4 separate regions of the Homo sapiens genome follow, and all the other regions are linked to region 4. The links come from fine-mapping of genetic effects on gene expression. A gene starts in region 4. Each other region holds a variant in brackets. All regions are shown on one strand. Distances are between the middles of the regions.

Evidence for each region.
Region 1: its variant is fine-mapped to the expression of KAZN in whole blood (TOPMed, PIP above 0.99).
Region 2: its variant is fine-mapped to the expression of KAZN in whole blood (INTERVAL, PIP above 0.99).
Region 3: its variant is fine-mapped to the expression of KAZN in whole blood (INTERVAL, PIP above 0.99).

The regions. Positions count from the first base shown.
Region 1 is chr1:14,864,883-14,870,343 of GRCh38, reverse strand. The region is part of intron 1 of KAZN (kazrin, periplakin interacting protein); the gene reads right to left. Among named protein-coding and RNA genes, the nearest start is that of KAZN, 270 kb to the right of the region's middle. RefSeq lists an enhancer at 1,739-2,239. The variant G/A (reference allele first, on the strand shown) is at 2,188.
Region 2 is chr1:14,871,743-14,877,203 of GRCh38, reverse strand. All of the region lies in intron 1 of KAZN (kazrin, periplakin interacting protein), which reads right to left. Among named protein-coding and RNA genes, the nearest start is that of KAZN, 280 kb to the right of the region's middle. The variant G/TCCATCCATCCAG (reference allele first, on the strand shown) is at 2,734.
Region 3 is chr1:14,889,194-14,894,654 of GRCh38, reverse strand. All of the region lies in intron 1 of KAZN (kazrin, periplakin interacting protein), which reads right to left. LOC107985469 (a long non-coding RNA gene) reads left to right here. Exons shown (of 3, transcript XR_001737616.2): 2 at 4,631-4,694. Among named protein-coding and RNA genes, the nearest start is that of TMEM51-AS1, 260 kb to the left of the region's middle. RefSeq lists an enhancer at 1-831. The variant T/C (reference allele first, on the strand shown) is at 2,699.
Region 4 is chr1:14,595,571-14,601,031 of GRCh38, reverse strand. KAZN (kazrin, periplakin interacting protein) reads right to left here and starts at 2,347. Exons shown (of 15, transcript NM_201628.3): 1 at 1,809-2,347. The coding sequence starts at 2,034. RefSeq lists a silencer at 1,521-1,680.

The DNA of each region.
Region 1 (5,461 bases), 270 kb before region 4:
AACAAAAAACAGTTGAGGAAACAGGGCCAGAGAAGTTAAGCCATTTGTTCAAAGTCACACAGCAAGTGAGGAGCAGAGCTGGGACTCACCCTTCACCCTGTCTTAACTCCAAAGCCTGTGGTCTTTTGGTTTTGAGTAGAAGGGTCTGATTTTTCCCAGTATCCAGGCCCTAGACTCCATGTTCAAGGAATCTCCCCAGCAGTCGTCTGAAGGTCAAAGCCAAGGTCAAGGCCAGGCCCAGTGCTCCTGGACAGATACTGGGATTTTCCACAGAGATGAGACCCTGAGTTTTTCATCTCATTGGGGAAAAATCTGGACATTCTACCTTCCATGTGATTTTTCTTACCTCTCTGTCATTTTTCCCCGGATACCTTGGGATTAATGGCAAAGTAATGCCGGGGTGGGTGTTGGGTGGCTTCAGGAAGGAAGGGGCTGAGGGCAGGAGACCGGTACAACCCAGCAGCCACCACATGGAACAAGGCTTTTAATAACACTGGATTTTTCCAGCAGGTCTGTGCGCTAATTAAACCTGCTCCTCGCAGCCACTGCAAAATGAAGGGAGTCTCACCTGAAAGCTTGTAATTTGCCAACACGAAGGAGAACAGAAGCAAGTACTCAAACATTACCCACAACCACTGCTTTGGAATATTGATTAGCAAGAGACGAGGCACATGCCAGCTTTCAACCCCTCGAACCCAATCAGAATCAATATTTCTCTCCTCAGAGTGCAGAGGAGAAGACCCTTTCAATTCCGATCCAGAAAGAGCCCAGGGGCTGTGACATCTGCCAGCCCTACTGTCCTGTTCTGCTTCACTGAAAATGCTAGCATAGGTGAAGATATAAAAATTACAGAACTCATCAAAAGATATTATAAAGCCCCAGCCACACATCCTAATGACTCACAAAATGACTAGTCTCCAGCATGCAGCCTGTAATTAGAGCCTCGCTGTGCAGAATATACAGTCACAGCCCCTGCGTTGAGGCTCCATAAAGAGTCCAGAGTCTGACCCCTGAATTGTGCTCACACAGGGAAGGCAATGAAAGGTCGCGAGCTCACCCTGAGAAGTGAGAAAAAATCCTCAGAACCTGGAAGAGCTTGAGACTGTGCAAAAGGGAAGTGGAGATTTAAAGGAGCAAACTGGAAGGGTCAAGACAGGCAGGAAGGGGATGGTGGAAGCTGGAATACTAAACTTCGATCCCAACCTGCGGCTAGAATAGGATCCAGCTGTCATGGCTTTGGCAAGTCTGCGGTTCTCACTAGGACACATCCCAAGGTGCTAGCAGGAACTAGAGAAGGGGAATCTGGCATCCTGACTAGCATTTTGTGGGTACCCACAATACCACCGGGGCCCCCAAGCTGGAGTGGGGGACACAGATCAACAAGGGAAAAATCACCGAGTAGAACAGATGCACCCCCCCGCCAACCCCGATTCAGTTCTCTTATCTTGGCCCCATTTCGGATTATTTATTATTATTTTTACTTAGCTATTAAGTTTTTTAGAGTTGGGGTCTCATTCTGTTGTGCAGGCTGGAGTGCAGTGGCATGATCATAGCTCACTGCAGCCTTGAGTTCCTGGGCTCAAGAGATCCCCCCACCCCAGCCTCCCTAGTAGCTGGGACTACAGGCACACGCCACCATGCCTGGCTCCTCTTGGCCCCATTTCTGGAAGGACATGCAGAGATGAAGACAGCTGCAGAGGAGCCTACTAGATTCCCCTCCCCAAACTCAAAGTCTGCCCAGATGTTCTGGGTCTACAAGACTCCAGTTCACCCAGTGGAAAAGTGGTAATGGTTAGACATTCACTTCAAGAAGGGCCCACGGGGAAGTGGTTAAGATTTCAGCCTCTGGAGTCACTAATCTTGGTTTCAAATCCCAGGTCTTGTAACGTGTGGCCCTAGATGAGTTGCTCCAACTCTGAGCCTCAGTTTCCCCATCTATAAAATGGCTCCCATCCCAGGAAAGTGTTAGAAAGCCCACAGCCTGGTACCCTCTAATTGCCCAATAGATGCAATAGCAATTAGTAGTAAAGACAGCCATTGGGTCTAAGAACAGTTCCCCTCCAGTGGCCTCAGACGCAGCCCTGGCTGTGCGTATGTGATGCCATGTGTTTGCAATGCCTGCGTATGCGATGCCTGCGTATGTGATGCGTGCTATTTGATGCCTGCCTATGCGATGCCCGCCTATGC[G/A]ATGGCTGCGTATGTGATGCCGTGCTATGTGATGCCCGTGTATGCAATGCCTGTGTATGTGATACCGTGCGTATGTGATGCCTGTGTATGCAATGCTGTGCGTATGTGATGCCATGCTATGCGATGCCATGCCTGTGTGATGCCCACGTTTGTGATGCCTGTGTATCCAATGCCTGCATATGCGATGCCTGCCTATGCAATGCTGTGCTTATGTGAGGCTGTGCCTGCCCACTGCTGTCCTCCCTGTAGCCAGGTCATGTCTGTCTCCTCTCCACCTATCCAAGTGCAGTCCACAGCCTTATATACATCACTGGCTCAGCCCAGGAAAGCTGAGGACATAGCCAGGGACAAGCCCCAGACGAGGGGCCATGCCAGCTGACCTGCCTGCTGCCCTTTGCCCCAATGCCTCCATGCCCAGGGTGGGGGGGGGGGTGTCTTCAAAGACACCGAGTAAAGCAGAGACAGAAGTCACAGTCCTAGCAAAAGCACCTGAATAGGATGACTGCTGTTGTCATTAATAACACAAACAGCAGCACCTGACATCAGTCTACGGACAACTACGTGCTCTGTCATTTCATCCTCTCGGCGTCCTTGCGAGATGGAAGCTAGTAGTTTTCCTACTTCACAGAGCTGGAAACAGGCACAGAGAAGTCAAAAAGCCTGTCTTACCTGGAGCCCAGCTGGAGGATGCACCATCCCTGAACCCAACGGTAACTCTATCATCAGCACCATGGCCAGAGTCAGGTCCCGGGGGAATACAATGGTCTTGGGCTTTCTATTTTGGTGCCTGGTCTAAGTCTAGTGCAGTTTTTGTCCTCTGCTTCTCTCTCAGCCCACTCACAGCCTCAGTGCAAAATAAATCTCCCCACTCTCCCCACTCTCGCAGATCTCACAAAACAACAGACCTTCAAGGCAAAAGAGGAGGGAGAGGGGAGCAAAGGACTCCGAGAGGCCTCCACGCTCCATTGATCACAGGGCCCTGAACGTGGCTGCTCCCCTGCACAGGGAGGGCCCTGGCTGGGCCTTGGCCAAGCATTGTAGCAGAGGAGGCCTGGAAAAAACGAGCCCGAACTTGGGATTCAAGAGAAGGGCATTGCAAGGTCAGCAGTCCATCAGGGAGGCAGGGGCGTGGCCAGCCTCACTTAGCATCCTGCTTCTTTTCTGTCTTCTCCAATCCAAATTTATGCCATGACAATAACAGCATTCTCCATTATTGTGTATCTCCACTGATCTCAAGAGGTGTCCATAGACCAGGGTCTCCCCACAGCTCAGGCCAGCACAGATTCCATGCCTGGGGCCTCAGATTAGGTGTCCGGATGCTCATGGAGTGAGGCCCAAGGTCTTGGAAGGGCTGGAAGGACCTTTGGATTCATTTGGGTCTAGCAATTGTAGGATCAATGGTATTATCCTTCAACATTTTTTTTTTTTAAGAGACACAGTCTCAGTCTGTCACCCAGGCTGGAGTGCAGTGGCACAATCACAGCTCACTGCAGCCTCAACCTCCTGGGCTCAAGGGATCCTCCTACCTCAGCTTTCTGAGCAGCTGGGATTACAGGTACATGCCACCATGCCCAGTTCATTTTTTATTTTTGGCAGAGACGGGGGCAAAAGATGTTGCCCAGCTGGTCTTGAACTCCTGGATTCAAACACTCCTCCTGCCTTGGCCTCCCAAAGTGCTGGGATTACAGGTGTGAGCCACTGTGCCAGACCCTTCCACAAATTCTTGTATGTTAACTGCATGCCAGGCTCCAGGGACAGAAGGATGACAAGATGGGCATAGACCTTGACCAGGAGCTTATGGGACTGAGGAAGGGGCTCTCGCCAAAACTCAGGGAGATCGGGATGCTTGCTTTCTGTACAGGTCACCTGCTTTCGGTGAGGTAATTCATTGCATAGTCATCTATGTGCAAAGCGCTCTAAAGTAGGGGTTGGACAGGTGATGTGGGGATGGGACAGGAGAAGAGCTGAGTGGGGAGGGGAAGCTGAAAGAGAGTTCCAGGCAGAGGGAACAGCAGGTGCAAAGGGCATGGAATTGGGAGAGAGCTCGGCAAGTTTGAGAAGCTGAAAAAAACTTTCCCAGGGCTGCTATAACAAAGTGCCACAAAGCAGATGGCTCAGAACAACGGAAATGTATCATCTTGCAGTTCTAGGGGCTAGATGGCTGGGATCGAGGTGTCGGCAGGGCTGTGCTCCCTCTGAAGGCTTCAGGAGAGAATCTTTCCTGCCTCCTCCCAGCTTCTGGTGGTTTCTTGGCACTCCTTGGCTTGTGGCTGCCTCACTCCAATCTCTGCCTCTGTGGTCCCACGGCCTCCTCCCTGTGTATCCACGTGGCCTTCTTACCAGGACATCAGACCTTGGGATTAGGGCTCACCCTATTCCAGTAAATCTTAACTTGACTAGTTATAACCACAGAGATCTTGTTTTCAAATAAGGTCATGTTCTATCATTCCAGGTAGACATGAATTTGGGATGAGGGCACACATAATCCAACCCAGTACAGGCAGGATGGCTGGAGAGCAAGGGGGAGGGTGGTCGTAGAAGGGATTGCTATTCCTCAGAAAGAGATGAGACGTCTCTCTGGCTTTTGGTGGAGGGGGTCCCCTGGCAAGAAGAAGGGTGTTTTCTGGTTGCAGTCTCCAGGCTTCTGCCATGAGGGAAGGTCACCGCAGCAGCAGATGGCAGACATGGGGGAGGAGGGAGACCAGGAGAAGCCAGGGCGCAAAGATCTTGTCTTAAAATACACCAAATCAGGAAGATCTGTCATCTCTGCTAAGCAGATGTGTTGTAGATTCTATTAAAAGCACAAATGAACTTCAGAAGACAGGTCCTAATAAGCAATTCTAATTATCATCTTCATTAACTACTCCAGTCCCAGGGCGATCTATTTTCATACTGGGGAGGAGCCGCAGCTACATTTCTCTGGAAAAGTCTCTTCCTCTTGGTGCCTCCAGATGGGAAGTTTGTCTAGTGGTGAGAACGGTGTCCCTGACCTTGGGCAAGAGGCAGAGGTAGAAGGTCCCCATTCCACCCCTGCCTGAATCTTTGCATCCAGTGTTGAGTAGCTAGCTTCCTCTCACACATTCCAATCCATTTTGGACGGGGAAAGATCTCATTGAGGAGATGGTACCTGGGGTTTGCTATTTTATCCAACAAGCAATGTTTTGGTGGGTCTAGCATGGTGCTGGGTAACACTAATGGCAGTTTCACCTGGCAGGGGCTGCTGGTCTGAGCTTTTTTCATGCAGTAATTCGTTTGCATCTCACAACATCACAAC
Region 2 (5,461 bases), 280 kb before region 4:
GAGACAGAGCCACGAGATTGGTGGTGAGAAGAGAGTCCAAGAGAGTCCGAGAGAGTGCGGGGAACACCCCTTGAGCTCCTGGAGCCAGTCATGCCTGAAGGATCCACACTGGCATTTTCAAGTCCCTGGAACCAGCCATGACTGGAAGATCAACCCTGGTATTTTGAATCACCAGAACCAGTAGCTTTTGCATCTCTACATGTATGTATATATTTGGCTTAAGACAGTTTGGGTTGAATTTCTGTCACCTGAAACTCAAAAATGTCTGACTAATACAAGTTGGTTTCAACTTGCCCAAAGGCTTTCTTACTTTCTTTAGTTCATGTCAAAGTAGATGACTTTGCAGTATTCTAAGTGGTAAGACAAGACTTCCCCAAATCTAGACATGCCTATCTACAAAAAGGTCTGGAGGGAGAATAATAACAGCTAACATTTATTAGCTCTGTGTGACAGGCATCACTTTAAGTGTTTTACGTAGATTACTCATGGATCCTCAAAAGCATACCAATTTTTGGTACTATCATTAGCATCATTATCCTATTTTAGAGATGGGCAGACTAATGTAAACAGAGAAGGTGGGAAGCATACTCAAGGTCACAGAGCTGGTAAGGGGCAGAGTGAGACTTGAATCCAGGCAGTCCAGCTCCAGACCCCACTCCCTCCACTTAACTACTACACAACGCTGTGTCTGCTTCCCCTGCAAAGACCTGCACAGGAGTGATGGTCCTAAACCCAGGTTCCTACCTGCAATTTCAAGGTGTGTCCTCCCAAGCATCTGTTCTTTGCTCTGTTGCCAAAGGCATGTTTAATCACCTGCCTAGAGTTCCTTTCCTGGCTTGCATAATAATGAGCCCACAGCAGCTACTATCGCTAATGTCATTCTGGCTGCTGGCTGCATTTGCGCATGTAATAAACGCAGCTACCACAAGATTGGAAATTGGACAGGTGACAACAGAGGCTGTGATTGTGCAGATCAGATTGAGGACAGGGAACTGATAACACTGACAATTCCATAAAGCCATCACCTCATCTATTGTTTCTCACCTCCGCGGCAAGCCTCTGAGGTGCCCTAATGAGGTAAGATCCTAACATCTGTTAAGATCACAGTCCCACTTGGCTTGTCTGGGCTTTCTTCTTCCTCCTTGCCTCAGTCAAACAACTGCTTTTAATCTCTCCATTCAGAGGAGCGGCTCACTCTCACTTCACTGTCATCACACAGAGCTTGAAGCAGGGGGTGTCAACTGTGAAAGTTTGCAGGGCAACACATCTTCCCGAGCATCTCTGTTGATGTGGCAGTCATGCCTGGGCTGAAATCTACCCCCTTCCAGGAAAGCAGGAAATTCCCGAGGTCACACTTCAGATTGATCTCAGAAAACCTCTTTCTTGATAGTGAAGGCAACAGGCAGTGGTGTACTGGCAAGTGTTTAACAATCAACTGTGGAGGGTTGGGCGAAGGAGCCCTGATTTGTAGTCATTGCCAGTTTCCATGGTGTACGTACTCTCATCATCAATTTTAAGCCACCAGTATGAGGCTTATAACATTCCTGAAAATGTAACTATTGGCTCTCAGGAGCCTGGAGCAGACCCCAGCACATCCTGCGTAGGAAGCCTGGTCTGTGCCTCATGCCTCCTAAGAATCCAGTGATTTTCACTATTAGGAGAAGGAAGAAATGGCTTCATTGAAAATAGTTTTTTTTTCTTTTTTCTTTTTTTTTTTTTTTAATAAATTAAGGACAATGCAAGGCAGGGAAGACAAGAGTTCAGCTTCCATGCTCACCCAATAAATGATAACAACAACCAAATAAACCCATAAAAAGATAAATAACATTTACATAAAATGTCTTACAATTTTTTTTTTTTTTTTTTTTTTTTGAGACAGAGTTTCACTCTTGTTGCCCAGGATGGAGTGCAATGGCATGATCTCGGCCCACTGCAACCTCTGCCTCCCGGGTTCAAGTGATTCTCCTGCCTCAGCCTCCTGAGTAGCCGGGATTACAGGCATGCACCATCATGCCGGGATAATTTTGTATTTTTAGTAGAGACGGGGTTTCTCCATGTTGGTCAGGCTGGTCTTGAACTCCCAATCTCAGGTGATCTGCTTGCCTCAGCCTCCCAAAGTGCTGGGATTACAGGTGTGAGCCACCGCACCTGGCCACAAATTTACAGATATATCTGAGACCTTTCCTCATTTGGCTTTAACATGGAGGAATCTCCAGGGACCCCCACTTGCAGAGGTAGGTGGCTGCGCAAATCTGCTCTTCCAGAAAGGAAGGGAGATTTGGCAAAGCATCAGTTTGGCAAATGGAAATACAAAACCAAGTAAGTCTAGGATCCCAGAGTTAGTTTTTTTTCCTCTCATTTTCTTCCTTTCCTTTCCCTTCTCAAACCTTAAAAGGGGAAACATTCGACCAAGAGCATTATGGGTAATCCAGAGAAGGATAATCAAACCAGAAGATGTCAAGATTCTCATCTTATAGCAAACACAGGTCACACCAGGATTTCTGGGCTGGATCCAAAAAGTTGGGTGAATGGAGAAGGAGATTGGTTTTGACAGCTTTTGGTTCTGGCACACGGAGTGTCAGGCAACAGTTGCTTAATTGCTGTCACAGGTGACAAGATGGTGCAGTTACCTGCAGTAGTTAAGTTAGCTGCAGTAGTTAAGTTAGCCTTCCATCCATCTGTCCATCCATCCATCCATCCATCCATCCATCCATCCATCCATCCATCCATCCA[G/TCCATCCATCCAG]TCAGCCAGCTAGCTAGCGATTCATGCCACCATTCCTCTGAAACAACTCAAGGTCACCAATGACATTATTAAATCCAGTGGTCACCTTTCCAGCCCCTCTTACTTAATCTGTCAGCAGCATCTAACAGTTGAACACTCTCTTCCGGACACATGTCACTTCTCTACTGGTTTCTTCCTACCTCACCAGCTGTTCCTTTTCAGTAGCCTTTGTTGGATCCTCTTCCCCCTTCCGACCTCCAAATGTTGGAGGACTCCAGAGCTCAATCCTTGGATTCTCTATCTGTACTCACTTGTCTGGTATCGTGGCTTTAAATATCATCTGTATATGCTGATGATTCCCAAATGGATATGACCAGCCCTGTCCTCTCCCTTGAAATTTGGACAGTCAACTCTCAGATGATTAATAGACATCTCTAACCTAGCATACTCCAAACTGAGCTCCTGATTTCCTCCTGGCCCACCCCCTCTAAACTCGCTCCTGCCCCTGTCTTCTCTATTTCAAGAAATGACAAGTGCTTTCCTTCCAGTTACTCAAGGGTGCATCTCTGGAATCATTCTGGACTTCTCCTTTTTCTCCTACCCACCACATCCACCACGTCAGTTCTGCTGGCTCTACCTTTGAACTAGATACTGAATCTCGCCACTTTGCCCCACTTTGCACTGCTCTCTCCCTGGTCCCAGCCACCACAAACTCATGCCTAGATGATTGCAGTAGCTTCCTTATTTGTCTCCGGCACCTGCCTTTCCTCCCTAGAGTCTATTTTCAACACAACATAAATATATGTCAGATCCAATCCCTCCTCTTCTCAAAGCCCACCACTGGCTTCTCATTTCACTGAGAGGAAAGCAAAGTCTTCCAAAAGCCTGAAAGGCCCCTGGCTCCCTCTGACCTCCTCTCCTTTTACATTTCCTCTCCTCCCACACTCTGGTTTAGCCATGCTAGCCTTCTTCTGTTCTCTCTGCTTTTCCCTCAGATCTCTGCATAGCTCACTTCCTCCCTTCCCTCAAGGCTTTCTCAAATGCTGCTTTACCAAAGAGACCACCCTATGTGAAACAGCAGCCCCATTATTCTGCATCCCTCTTCCCCACTTTATTTTCCTTCATAGTGCTTACTGCTACTAGAAATTCTTTATGCTATTTGTTTTCTTCTTGAACATCTGACTCTCCCCTTTAGAATACAGTCTTTCTGAAAGCAGGAGCTTTGTCTGTGTTATTATTCTATCCCTAACTACTTGAATAATGCCTAGTGCATAGCAGGTGACAGAAGGAATGAATGGATGAATCCATCCACCCATCCATTCATCTATCTGTCCATCCATCCATCCTTCCATCCATCCATCCATCCACCCATCCATTCATCTATCTGTCCATCCATCCATCCTTCCATCCATCCATCCATCCACCCATCCATCCATCCACCCACCGATTCATCTATCTATCCACCCACCCATCCATCCATCCATCCATCCATGTATCCTTCTATATGTTCTTCTACTCATCTTTCCATCCATCCATCCATCCATCCATCCATCTATCCATCCATCCATCCATCCACCCAACCATCCATTTATCCATATATCCATTCACCCATCCATCCACCCATCTATTCATCTATGTATCCGTCTGTACATCCATCCATTTGTCCTTCCACCCATCCATCTGTACGTCCATCCATCCATCCACCTATCCATTCATCTGTCCACTTGTCCATCCATCCATCGAACCATCCATCCATGCAATAATTTCTTACTGGGATTCTGTATAGGTTCATGAGAGATCCATTATATTAATCCTTCAAATGTGAAGGGAGATGTCCAGAAATAAGACCATTTTAAGGATTTCAGGCCCCACTTAGATCAGTGGTTACAATAATTATGAGCATGAGCAAGACTTATTCACACAGTACCTGGCTTCATCATTGGAGCTTTCAATTAAGGGATGCAATGAATATTCCCTTATAGCACTTCACAGTTTACAAAGCAAACTGTAATGATCCAATTGAATAATCTAAAACTGCACTGTACAATATGGTTGCTGTTAGCCATATGTGGCTGTTTGAATTTAAATTCATTGAAATTAAATAAAATAAAAAATTCAGTTCCTTAGTCACACTAGCTATATGTTAATTGCTTAATATCCACATGTGGCCAGTGGCTACCATATTAAATAGAAAGTTCTAGGAAGTTCTATCAGACAGCACTGCTCCATAACCACCCTAAAGTAGTAGTTTATTATATCCCATTTTGCAGACAAGAAAACAAACCCAGAGAAGTCCCCCAGTCAGTATGAAGCAGAGGCTAGTCTTGAAATCTAGTCTTCTGACTCCAAGTCCATTATTCCTTCCAAAGAAGGGTAATTTAAGGGACTGGTGCCCACACGCTTGCACCCTAATTCAGCTTCTGATACAGGAGTGCAGGAATTTAGATGTTTATCTGCCAGCAATAGCCTCTTGCCTTGCTGTCTGCGCATATTCATGCCCCCTTCTTCTGGTAGCTCCCAGATGATTAACAGACATCTCCAGCCTAGCATGCTCCAGACTGAGCTCCTGATTTCCTCCTGGCCCACCCCCTCTAAACACCCCCATTCTCCCGGGTCACCTTTCTCTCCCCTACTCTGAGTCCATGACACTGAGACTCACGTGGGGCTGACCCCACTCTGATTCCAAGGGTCAGCATGTGAGCCTGTGACTCAGATCTGGTCAATCAGGATACTATGCCTTCAGGCCTTG
Region 3 (5,461 bases), 290 kb before region 4:
GAGTCTAGCAAGGACTGCGAATCAGCAATTAAGTGACCCTAACTCAGACTGAGAGGCCGGGAAGGCTCCAGGAGGAGGTGATGCTTGAGATGAGCTGGAAAGATGTGCCACATCGACAGTTAACGCCTGCAGGGCAAGTGTCACGTGCCATGAGGCACTCTACACCCTTGACGTCCCTAACACATTCAGTCTTCCCAGGGACCCTAACACAGTGAGGACTGTTACCATTTCCCCATTTCTGTAAATGGGGAAACTGAGGCACAAAGTGATTCAGAAATTTTTCTGGGATTGCACAGCTGATTGGGAGTGAGTTATAAAGCGGGAGTTAGTGAGCCAGGTGCTGAAGGAGGAGAAGGAACAGCAAATGGCAAAGCAGGGATGGAGGATGCAGGAGGAGCCATCTGTCGGGTCAGGCAGGCGAGGCTGCGGCAGAAACTGTAGGCTGGAGCGGGGGAGATGGGGGTGAGCTAGGGAGGGGAGATGGTGGCAGAGCTGGGCAGGGGAGATGGGCGTGATGGCAGGCAGGAGGTTTGCAATTAGATTCACGTACTGTGATGCTTTGAGTGGCAGCACCCTGGGCTCTGGTGGGTCAGAGAAGTGGATTTGGGGGACAGTTAGCTTGAAATCAGCAGCCAGAGGTCCCTAAGTGCTGATTAATTATACTCTTCATCAACTAGCACCTCCCTTTGTAGCTGGGTCTGGAGCCGGGCTCCGGCTGCCACATCAATATTTCAGATGTGTCTTCTTTTCGGCTAAAAATGAACTTGTCATTTGCACAAGTTTTGAGACGTCCCAGTAAGCAAGTCTGTCTGCTCCTGAGCTGGGGCAAGACTTTTATGTTCAGAGGGTGCCTCCCTTGTGAAAGGGACTTTTCAAATGATCCTTGTACCTTAAACATAGGCTGAAGCGGGCACAGATTGATTCTGCCCACTCTGACCTCTGACCCTTTGTGGCTTTCTGGCCTCAGGGTCTGAGACCAAGGGTGATACAAAACTCCAGACACAATATGGTCAGAAGGAGATTTTCCAATTCTCTCCTTCCCCAGCCTGTAGGGAGAGCAGTAGCAGTAAAGGCGAGGGGGCCATCAGTCAAGGTTAGGGTGTGGAGGAAGGGAAGATGGGGGTCTCAGCGAGCGCTCTTCCTCTCACTCATCTTTCAGCATCAGCAAGGGCTTTGCTCCCTGGAGAAGCCCCCGTGACCTACTTCTCTGAGCAGGTCAAAGGGCCATCTGCCTCTCCTGTGGAGCTCCTCTCCCAGGGGCCATTTCTATTTTCTTTTTCTTTTTTTTTGAAACAAAGTCTCGCTCTGTTGCCCAGGCTGGAGTGCAATGGTGCGATCTCTGCTCACTGAAACCTCTGCCTCCTGGGCTCCAGAGATTCTTCTGCCTCAGCCTCCCAAGTGGCTGGGATTACAGGCACGAGCCACCACGCCCAGCTACATTTCGCATTTTTAGTAGAGACAGGGTTTCACCATGTTGGTCTGGTTGGTCTCGAACTCCTGACCTCATGATCCACCTGCCTCGGCCTCCCAAAGTGCTGGGATTACAGGCATGAGCCACCACACTGGCCTCTATTTTCCTTTTAAAAATGATTATTTGACTTCCTCCTGTAGATCATCAGCCTTATGACAGTAGGGACCAGTCTAATCAGTCTAATTCTGTTCACTCTATCCTAGCACCTAGAATTGTGCCTGCTACGTAGTAGGTGCTTGTAAATATTTGTGGAGGACTGCATGAATGAGGAATAATCTTAGGAGACTGGTCCTTCCTCTGTCCATTCCTTTTTTCCTTTCTTCTGGAAGCTTTTGTGTGTGTGTGTGTAGGTATTGGAGATACAAGATGAGTGGGCTGGTTTGCCTGGGCCCAGGCCACCGGAGCCTGCAGGAGGCCCCCACAGCCCCGTGGCACAAGTGTCCTGGGCTCACCTGCCCAAGTCTGAGGACATGAACACACACCCCTATGAACCCTGAGCCATGGGCAGGGGTGGTGGGCAGTGATGCAGACAGAGGTCATTCGAAAGCTTGCTCTGGAGACACCTTCTGGGGTGTCTCTGCAACCTTCTAGCACTTTCCCTTCCACTCTGTCCTTTGCAGACCTTGTAGAAAAACCTGTGGGGTGGGCTCCCATGGGCTGTCAGGGGAGGGAGAAGCTCCATGGTGGTGTCTGGGGGGAAACAAGCCTGAGATTACAGGCCTTCAGATGATCCAGGGATTGTAGGATACAGAGAGAAAGAGAGACAGCAGGGGGGAGGGGGAAAAAGGAGAGAGAGAGGGAAAAAGAGAGAGAGATGCCTCTGAAAGACAGATGCCTCTCTTCCCATAATGAAGGCACAGGAGGGCATCTTGGGACCTGGGTCATCAGAGATGGCTGGAGGCGAGCCCCGGGGCAGGGACTGAACTCTCTTCTGCCAGGAGTGTTTTCTTCCTGGAGTTCTGAGAGAATTTAGTGTTTGTGGCAGGTGCTGGGCTGGGCTCCCTAGAGACCTTGAGACTCCATTTGGGCCAGGAATGGGAGCACAGATGACGGCAGGGTCACCATCCCATCTGGGCTCTGCCTGCTGCCTTGAGGAGGCATTTACTTCAGGGGTCTGCACCACACCAGAGGCCAGAGGCAGGAGGTAGGGACGGGGGCATGTTGAACTTTCCTGACACCTTCCAGTAGCTTCTGGGTCATAGCAACAGGCAGGGCCAGATGTAAGAC[T/C]CCCTGACACCAAGAAGCCTCACATAATCAGAGCCGACTAACGGAGGCTCATGGACACGTCTTACTGCCCCATCCCACCCCCAACCATGGAAATAACTTCAGAGATTTCTTTTTCATTTTAGAAGAAATAGCTATTCATTGCATAAAATTCAAACAAGTTGGAGAAAGTACAAAGAAAAAAAAAGTATAAATCACCTGTAAAATCCCACTACCCCCGTTAATACTTTTTTGGCTTTTCTTCTCTCCTAAAGAAACATAATGACATAGAATTTTCCAGAAATCAGCATGACACAGGCTAACTTGCTTTTAGAAAAAACAATTCAACGGTATTCCATGGACATTTTCCCATGTAAATAAATACAGTGTTAAAGCAGTGGTCTTTAACTGCTTTAGCCCAGCACACACATGGGAAGTGCTGGGAAGCTTGTTAAAATACAGATTCCTTACTACTCAGCCATAAAAAGGAAAGTTAATGGCATTCGCAGCAACCTGGATGGGATTGGAGACTATTATTCTAAGTGAAGTAACTCAGGAATGGAAACCCAAACATTGTATGTTCTCACTCATAAGTGGGAGCTAAGCTATGAGGACGCAAAGGCATAAGAATGATACAATGGACTCTGGGGACTCAGGGTAAAGGGTGGGAAGGGGGTGAGGGATAAAAGACTACAAATTGGGTTCAGCGTATACTGCTATGGTGATGGGTGCACCAAAATCTCACAAATCACCACTAAAGAACGTACTCATGTAACCAGACACCGCCCGTTCCCCAAAAACCTATGGAAACAATAAATTTTTAGAAATACAGATTCCTGCCAGGCGCGGTGGCTCACACCTGTAATCCCAGCACTTTGGGAGGCCGAGGCGGGTGGATCACGAGGTCAGGAGATCGAGACCATCCTGGCTAACACGGTGAAACTCCATCTCTACTAAAAATACAAAAAAGTTAGCCGGGCGTGGTGACGGGTGCCTGTAGTCCCAGCTACTCTGGAGGCTGAGGCAGGAGAATGGCGTGAACCCGGGAGGCAGAGCTTGCAGTGAGCTGAGATCCGGCTACTGCACTCCAGCCTGGGCGACAGAGCGAGACTGCTTCAAAAAAAAAAAAAAAAAAAAAAAGTCCAGATTCCTGGCTGGGCACAGTGGCTCATACCTGTAATCCCAGCACTTTGGGAGGCTAAGGTGGGAGGATTACTTGAGCGTAGGAGTTTGAGACCTGCCTGGGCAACACGGCAAGACCCCAGCTCTAGATTAAAAAAAAATACAGATCTTTGGGTCCCATTCTGAGATTCATCAGTGGATCCGCCGTGGGGCCCGGAAGTCTGTATACTGAGAAAGCCCACAAGAGGACTCTGATTCACGCCCGTCATTCAGAATCCTGATCTATGGCCTGCCTTTAAAAATAACCTTCTCTATCTTTTTAAAAGGCGGGCAGAAAGGAAAAAAAAAAGATTTAAATTTGCTATCAGGAATTTTAAAAATGTTCAGCTTTTAGGGGATGTCACAGGTTTGACAGATTCAGTTTCTTTGTCCTATACTTTTTGCAGCGGGACGATGTCCCACTGGTGGGGACTGGTGCCCGGGAGATTCTGGGTCTGCGTGCCATTCTCGGGCAGTGGAGAGATTTCCCATCAGGAAAATGGGCTTTGCACACAGCTGAGAAACCTCTCCCCAGGGGCAATCCAGAAAGAGCTTTTTGTTCAATCTTCCATTAAAGAGAAATTTCAATTGCCTTGACCAGCCAGAGCATTCCAGCTGACCAGGCTTGACTTGCTTACCCAAAACCCAAACTCGCAGAGCAGGGAAGGGAAAGGCGACTGTTCAGCAAGTTCTGGGAAGCCCCCTCAGGGTCCCTGTGGTAAGCTTCCCGAATCATCTCCAACTGCATTCTGACCTGGGTCTAGGCTTCTCCCTAACTCTTCCTGTGTTCTGCAGGTTGACGACATAAAAAGCCCATTGTAACTCTTCAAGAGGCTGATGTTTGGCTCGAGCGTACGAGGTACTTCTTTTCACTGATGATACTACCCGACACAGTCTGCTAGTTGCCATATTTTGTCATGTAAGACAGGCTTTTTCTGCAAAGGGCCAGGAAGTAAATATTTTCAATGGTCTCTGTCCCAACTGCTCATAAATACATGGGCAAGGCTGTGATCCAGTAACATTTTATTTATGGACACTGCAGTTTGAATTTTGTATAAATTTCACATCGTGAAACATTCTTCTGATTTTTTTCAACCATTTAAAAGTGTACAAACATTCTTGGTTGGTGGGCTGGATTTGGCCTGTGGGCTGTAGTTTGCCAAGAGAAAGCTGGACAGGAATTAAGGAAGGAAGGGTAGGCAGGGGCAGACTTTTCCAGAATTAGAGCTGTACCCCAAGGGGGAATTCTGTCCTAGGAGACAGTGAGTGCTAAGTACACTCTGGACAAGCACCAGACACAGAAGCTGCCTCAGTTTGTGCTCCCCCTGCAAAGCAGAGCCTGAGACAAGGATTTGGGTACAAGGAGTTTCACTCAATATTATATTTCCAAGATGCACCCATGCTTTATATGGCTATAGTGCATCCATTTTACTGCTTTATACTTTCCATTAGGTGACTATATTAGTATATATTTATAATTCCTAGGTCTTTTTGTTCTCTTATTTGTTAATAATTATAAACTCCAAGCCCATTGTGGTAGATTGCTATTTCTCAGAGATATTTTCTGCTCCTTCCTGGGGGACAATAATACTTTTCTCCCATCAATGGCAGATGTGGGCTTGTGAC
Region 4 (5,461 bases):
ATTTGTGTAGGAAAAAAGAACAAGGAATCAGCCCCCTGTTGCTCCACTACAACAATTTAACCATCCGCGAGTATGTCAGTTTTCAAGTTGAGCATGTGGACATCATTACTGCGTTGACTGCCTTAGCCTGCCCAGTCTACAACCAGACCCAGGACTCAGATAAAAAGCCACTTAACTTTTCCTTCGCGGAGAAAGGGGCAGACAGTGGGAAATAAACGAGCATTGTTCAGTGTCCTTTACTATACAGCTTTTGATTCTTAGCAAAATGCCAGTTCTTAGCTATTTCTTTAATGTTAGCAGAGCCTCTGCCTATAAAAAGTGAAGCATTACCTTGCAGTCTGTCTTTTTTTTTTTTTTTTTTTTTTGCACAGGTTCCAGTGGAGAATGTTCTTTCGCACACAATGACATTGCAAGGATGACAAGAATAACCACATGTCAAGCTTGCAGCAAGCACTAGGACCACAACACCTTCTCACCATTACGTCATGGCTACTTCCTTACCAAAGTACTCCCCCCAATTCCTAAGACTTCCAACAGGCTCCGGGAGTACCAAGTTAAGATCTGACTTGGAATTCGACATAAAACTGCACGTGGGCAGGCTTCACATCTCACCTCAAAGAAAGCACACCTTCCCAGGAAGATAAGGTGGAAACAGAGACTGATGGAGAGAACCAGATTCTTAGGAAAACAGACTCTCTCAACCCTCAAGAGAAGCTCTTGAAATGACAACAGAACCAGAAAATCATTTTGAGCCACTGAGCAATTGGTACCTTGCACTTCAAGTGACATATTTAGACAAGTGGACCTCATGGACTGGAGATTTGTTTCTGTCCTGTTCTGGATTTCAGCAGTTTAATTTGCAATTCAAATGATATTAATAACCAGTGATACTGTTTCTTAAAGGGCAATTAGGCAAAAAGAAAAAAAAAATCCCCCAAAGCCTGCTTACCCTTTTACTTTCTAAGTCACAGAAACCAAACAGTACATTTTAGGGAATGCCCCATCCGCCTTTATGTCTTGCAGGGGGTTTCAGAGCTTAATCTCTGTCAATGTGAACACAAACCAACTGTCTTTTTCTTCCTCTTCTCTAAACCGCAGAGTCCCTTCAAACGGGCTCCCTGCAGCCCACCACCCTAAGCCTTCATTTCTCTACCGCTCAACCTTTGAGGTCTACAGTATCCCCCTGGAAAGTGCTCTCGGTGTTTATATTTGCGGAAATTTAAACTCCCTGCTGAGCTGAGCATCTACTGTTGCATCTATAGATTCCAATGCCTGAGAGACCTCAAATGAGAAGAAAATAAAGTCCAGATGCAACTGAGCCAAGGGATTTGGCATCCGCGGAGAAAAGTGCACAGCAGTGCAATCCTCTATCCCAACCACGGCGGCAGAGCCCGGAGCTCTCTCTGGGAAGGAGCCTAAGGAAGTGGGGGGAACTGTGCCATTCACCCCTGCGGGGGGTGGGGAAAAGGCCCCGGCATGAAAAGTTTGCACGGAGCTAGGGGGCTGGTGCCACGGAAAGGGCACTTTCTGATGCCGGAAGGGACCCGCCGGCTGCGCCTCGCTCAGGCTGGCCGGGGCCGGTGTGACCGTGTGACCCCGTGCACACTGCGCTCGGGTTTTCGTGAATGACAGCAGCCTGCAACTCCCAGCCGGAGAGCAGCGGTGGCCACCGCCGGGCGGAAAGGGTTACAAGCCAGAATGCAAAGCGATTTCGCCCCGGGTGTGGGGGACCCCGGGTCCCCGGCCACCTCCGAGGCCGGGCGTGCTCTGCTCGCCTTCCTCCGCCCTGGGCGCCGGGGCGATCCTACCTTGCGCTCCAAGCTGGGGGTTCTCCATGTTCGTCGCCGCCGAGTCCCCCGCCGCCGAGGCGCTGGCCGCGGCTCCCGGGCCCGGGCCGGGGCCGCCGCCGCCGCTCAGTTCCGCCAGTCTCCGGTTGGTGGCCGTGAGTTCGGCTCGCAGGTTGGTCACCTCCTGGCTGGCCGACTGGACCGCCCCATCGATGCGGAGCGCGAGCTGCTTATTGTCTTCCATCATGCTCAGGATTTTGGCCTGGGGGCGAGAGAGGTGACAAAGAGCTGCATGATGCGCGGGGGGCGCGCGGCCGGGCACCCCCGGCTCTACCTGTTGTGTCCTCCGCGGCCCGGCTTCGCCCGCGCCCCGACCCCCAGGCACCGGCAGCGCCGGTTCCTCCGGCACAGGAATGACAGCGGCGCCTCCAGCCCTAGCCGCGGCGGTGGCGAGGCGGCGGGGGGAGGAGGCGGAGGAGAAAAAAGAGGAGGAGAAGGAGGAGGAGGAGCAGCGATCGCCGAGACCCCGGCGGGCGGGCGCCGAGAGCTGCTCCAAGAAGGACACCGCGCGCCACCAGGCACTCTTTAAATGGAGCCTACCATTCGCCGCCGGCTCGGGAGGGGGTCTCGGTCGGAGGCTGGGGGCACCCTTGGCCTCCCGCGCCCCCGTACTTCGGAGACACACCCCCCGGGGGGGCGGAGGCGGCGGACGGCAGTCGGGAGGGGGCCAAGGTGGCGCCCCTGGCGAGGGGCAGGGGTCGCCTGGACCGAGGCCGGCCCTCTGTCCCCTCCCTTGAGCGGTGGGGCAGCCCCCGCCCTGGAGAACTGGTGCCCCGAGCCGTGCTAAGGTTGGGGAGGTGCTGGGTGCTCGGAAGAGAGGGTGCTTGGAAAGGGGGCCTCAGAGGGGAGCCGGGGTGGATCTCCATGGAAGGGAGACGCTTGCGCCAGCTCAGGAGTGGAGTTCGTGCTCCACCGGTTCCTTAAACTGCGAGTACGAAATCCCCAGAGGGGAGCTGAGCTGGTGCCCCGCGTGCCTCTCACTCTCCACCCCCCACCCGCAGGCCAGACCTGCGCTGCCCACCCCAGGAGGGAGCGCCTATCTTCCTCGGCGTGGGCCGCTGGTGCTCCCGCCTCTCCACAGCCCTAGCCCTGTGTGTGCATCCAGGTGGAGGAGCAGCCTTAGCCAGCTCCTAAGCTTCTTAGCCGGGCTGAATATTGGCGGGGACAGAGATGAGGTTGAGAGATAAGAAGGAAGGCGTCGATGGGGCTTCTTCCCTTTCTTCTACTGGGAGCAGAAGAGTTGAGCCCTGCTGCCTCAGTTTACCCATCCCCTCTTCACAGAAGAACTGAGGTAACCTGACGTTGATATGCCCTCTCCAGCTCCTCTTTCTCTCCCAGACCACAGGCTTTGCATTTTTCACTGGGGCCCTGGATTCCAGCCACCAGACCTTGTTACCATAGCAAACTTCATTCCATGCAAATAGGACAATTTAAAACAGCCAGCAACCCTCTGGTCAACAGGGCGCCATCATTCCAGCTCAGTCAACCTCCGGAGAGCAGCAAAGAGCAGATTGCAGAAGCCAGTGGGGTGCTGCGAGGAAAAATGAGGCTGCCCACCCTTCAGGTTCTTACAGGAAGCCCATAAGAACCAAGCAAAAACTGCGTGTAGAGTGCTTTTATATGCATTCTTATCTCTTGTGAGTGAGGATTATTATTCCCATTTTAGGGATAAGGAAACTGAGGCTCTGCATAGGGTTAAGCAATTTACTTAAGGGGCCCGCAGAAACCAGGTGACAGCGGGACTGGAAGAAAGTAATCATCTGATTGCAAGTTCCTCCTGCTGCGCCTTCAGGAGGCCTTGGATGATAGATTTCTCCCCCCTTTTCTGTGGAACCATAAAAACAGTCTTGCTCCATTCCCCTGTGACCACTAACAAGCTTTTGCAAGAGGGCAGGATTTGATGGTGGAGCATGTGGCAGGAAGACACAATTCTTCACTCTGTCCGCTCTGCTCAGCTAATGGGTCAGTTCGGGGATCGAACCCTGACCTTAACCTCATTAACACAAGTTCTTACCAACTGGACCAACCAAGGCACTTAGAACTGCTTAGTGTATCTGCAAACCAGGATTCAGTTCTTTGCAGTCTTTCAGTTACGTTATGGGGAGAGCATCAAAACTACAGAGCTGTGTGGGTCTTGAAAAGGGGGATGCCGTGGTGCAGCCATTGTGGAAAACATATTAGCAGTTCCTTGAACAGTTAAACATAGGATTACCATACGACCCAGCAAATCCACTCCTAGGTATATGTCCAAAACAAATATCCAAACAAAAATTTGTACATGAATGTTCATAGCAGCACTGTTCATTAGTAGCCAGAAGGCAGAAATAACCCAAATGTCCATCAACAGATGATTGGATGAACAAATTGCAGTATGCAATGGAATATTACTCAGCCGTGAAGAGTACTGATACATGCTACTACTACGTGGATGAAGCTCCAAAACATTATGTTAGTTGAAAGAAGCCCGACATAGAAGGTCACATATTATACGATTCAATTTATATGAAATATCCAGAATAAATAAATCCATGAAACAGGAAGCAGATTGGTGTTTGTCAGGGGCTGTGGGGAGGGAAGAATGAGAAGTAACTGCTTAATAGGTGCCGGGTGTTACTTTGTGCTGACTGATGAAAATGTTTTAGAACTAGACAGAGGTGGTGGTGGCACAACACGGTGAATGTACTAAGTGCCATTGAATTGTTCACTTTAAAGGGCTTAATTTCATGTTATGTAAATTTTACCTCAATCAAAAAGTCATATATGCAAATACACAAATAGAGAGGATGGGAATGTTTTGGAACTAGGGCTTCTGAGCAAACAGTTAAGAGTAGCTCTATTTAGAGGGCCGTGTGTGTGTGTGTGTGTGTGTGTGTGTGCGCACACGTGTGCGTGCACTCACACCTCTGGTATAGCACTCAGCAGAAGAAACAGTAATTTATCTGTTTATATGTCTCTCTCCCACTTCACTGGGAACTTGTGGGTGGGGGAAGGAGGGTTATCCGGCTTTTTATGTCATTCATCTTTGCGTCCTTGCCGCCCTAGCCCGTAGTAAGTGTTCTGTAAATGAATGCGTGTGAGTGTGTTTGTGTAGTAAACAAAGTGACCCAGTGTTACTCATTTTGCTCTTCAGTGAGATTATTCCCACACACCGGAATCTTCAAATCAAATCAAAACAAAAAAATCTAATAAGGAGAAAAGAAAAGACTCATTCCTTGAGCCCCTTCTCATCCCTCTATTTTTGAGGTTTCAAGAAGCTGCTTTAGAAACTCCTGGGGTGCCTCCTAGGATTTTAAGAATTTTATTTTTTGAGAGTTTTTTTTCCTAACATGAAAAAAAGGGGCTTTTTCCAGTTGTGTGTCCTTATGTTCACCCACACACCAAAGGACTAGATCTTAGATAGAAAGTCTGCAATCAATTAGCCTCTGCGGGTATACTTGATTTAAACCAAAAAGGTCTACCTTTCTTTTTTCTTTCTTTTTCTTTTTCTTTTTTTTTTTTTTTTTTGAGACGCAGTCTTGCTCTGTCGCCCAGGCTGGAGTGCAGTGGCGCCATCTCAGCTCACTGCAACCTCCGCCTCCTGGGTTCAAGGGATTGTCTGCCTCAGCCTCCTGAGT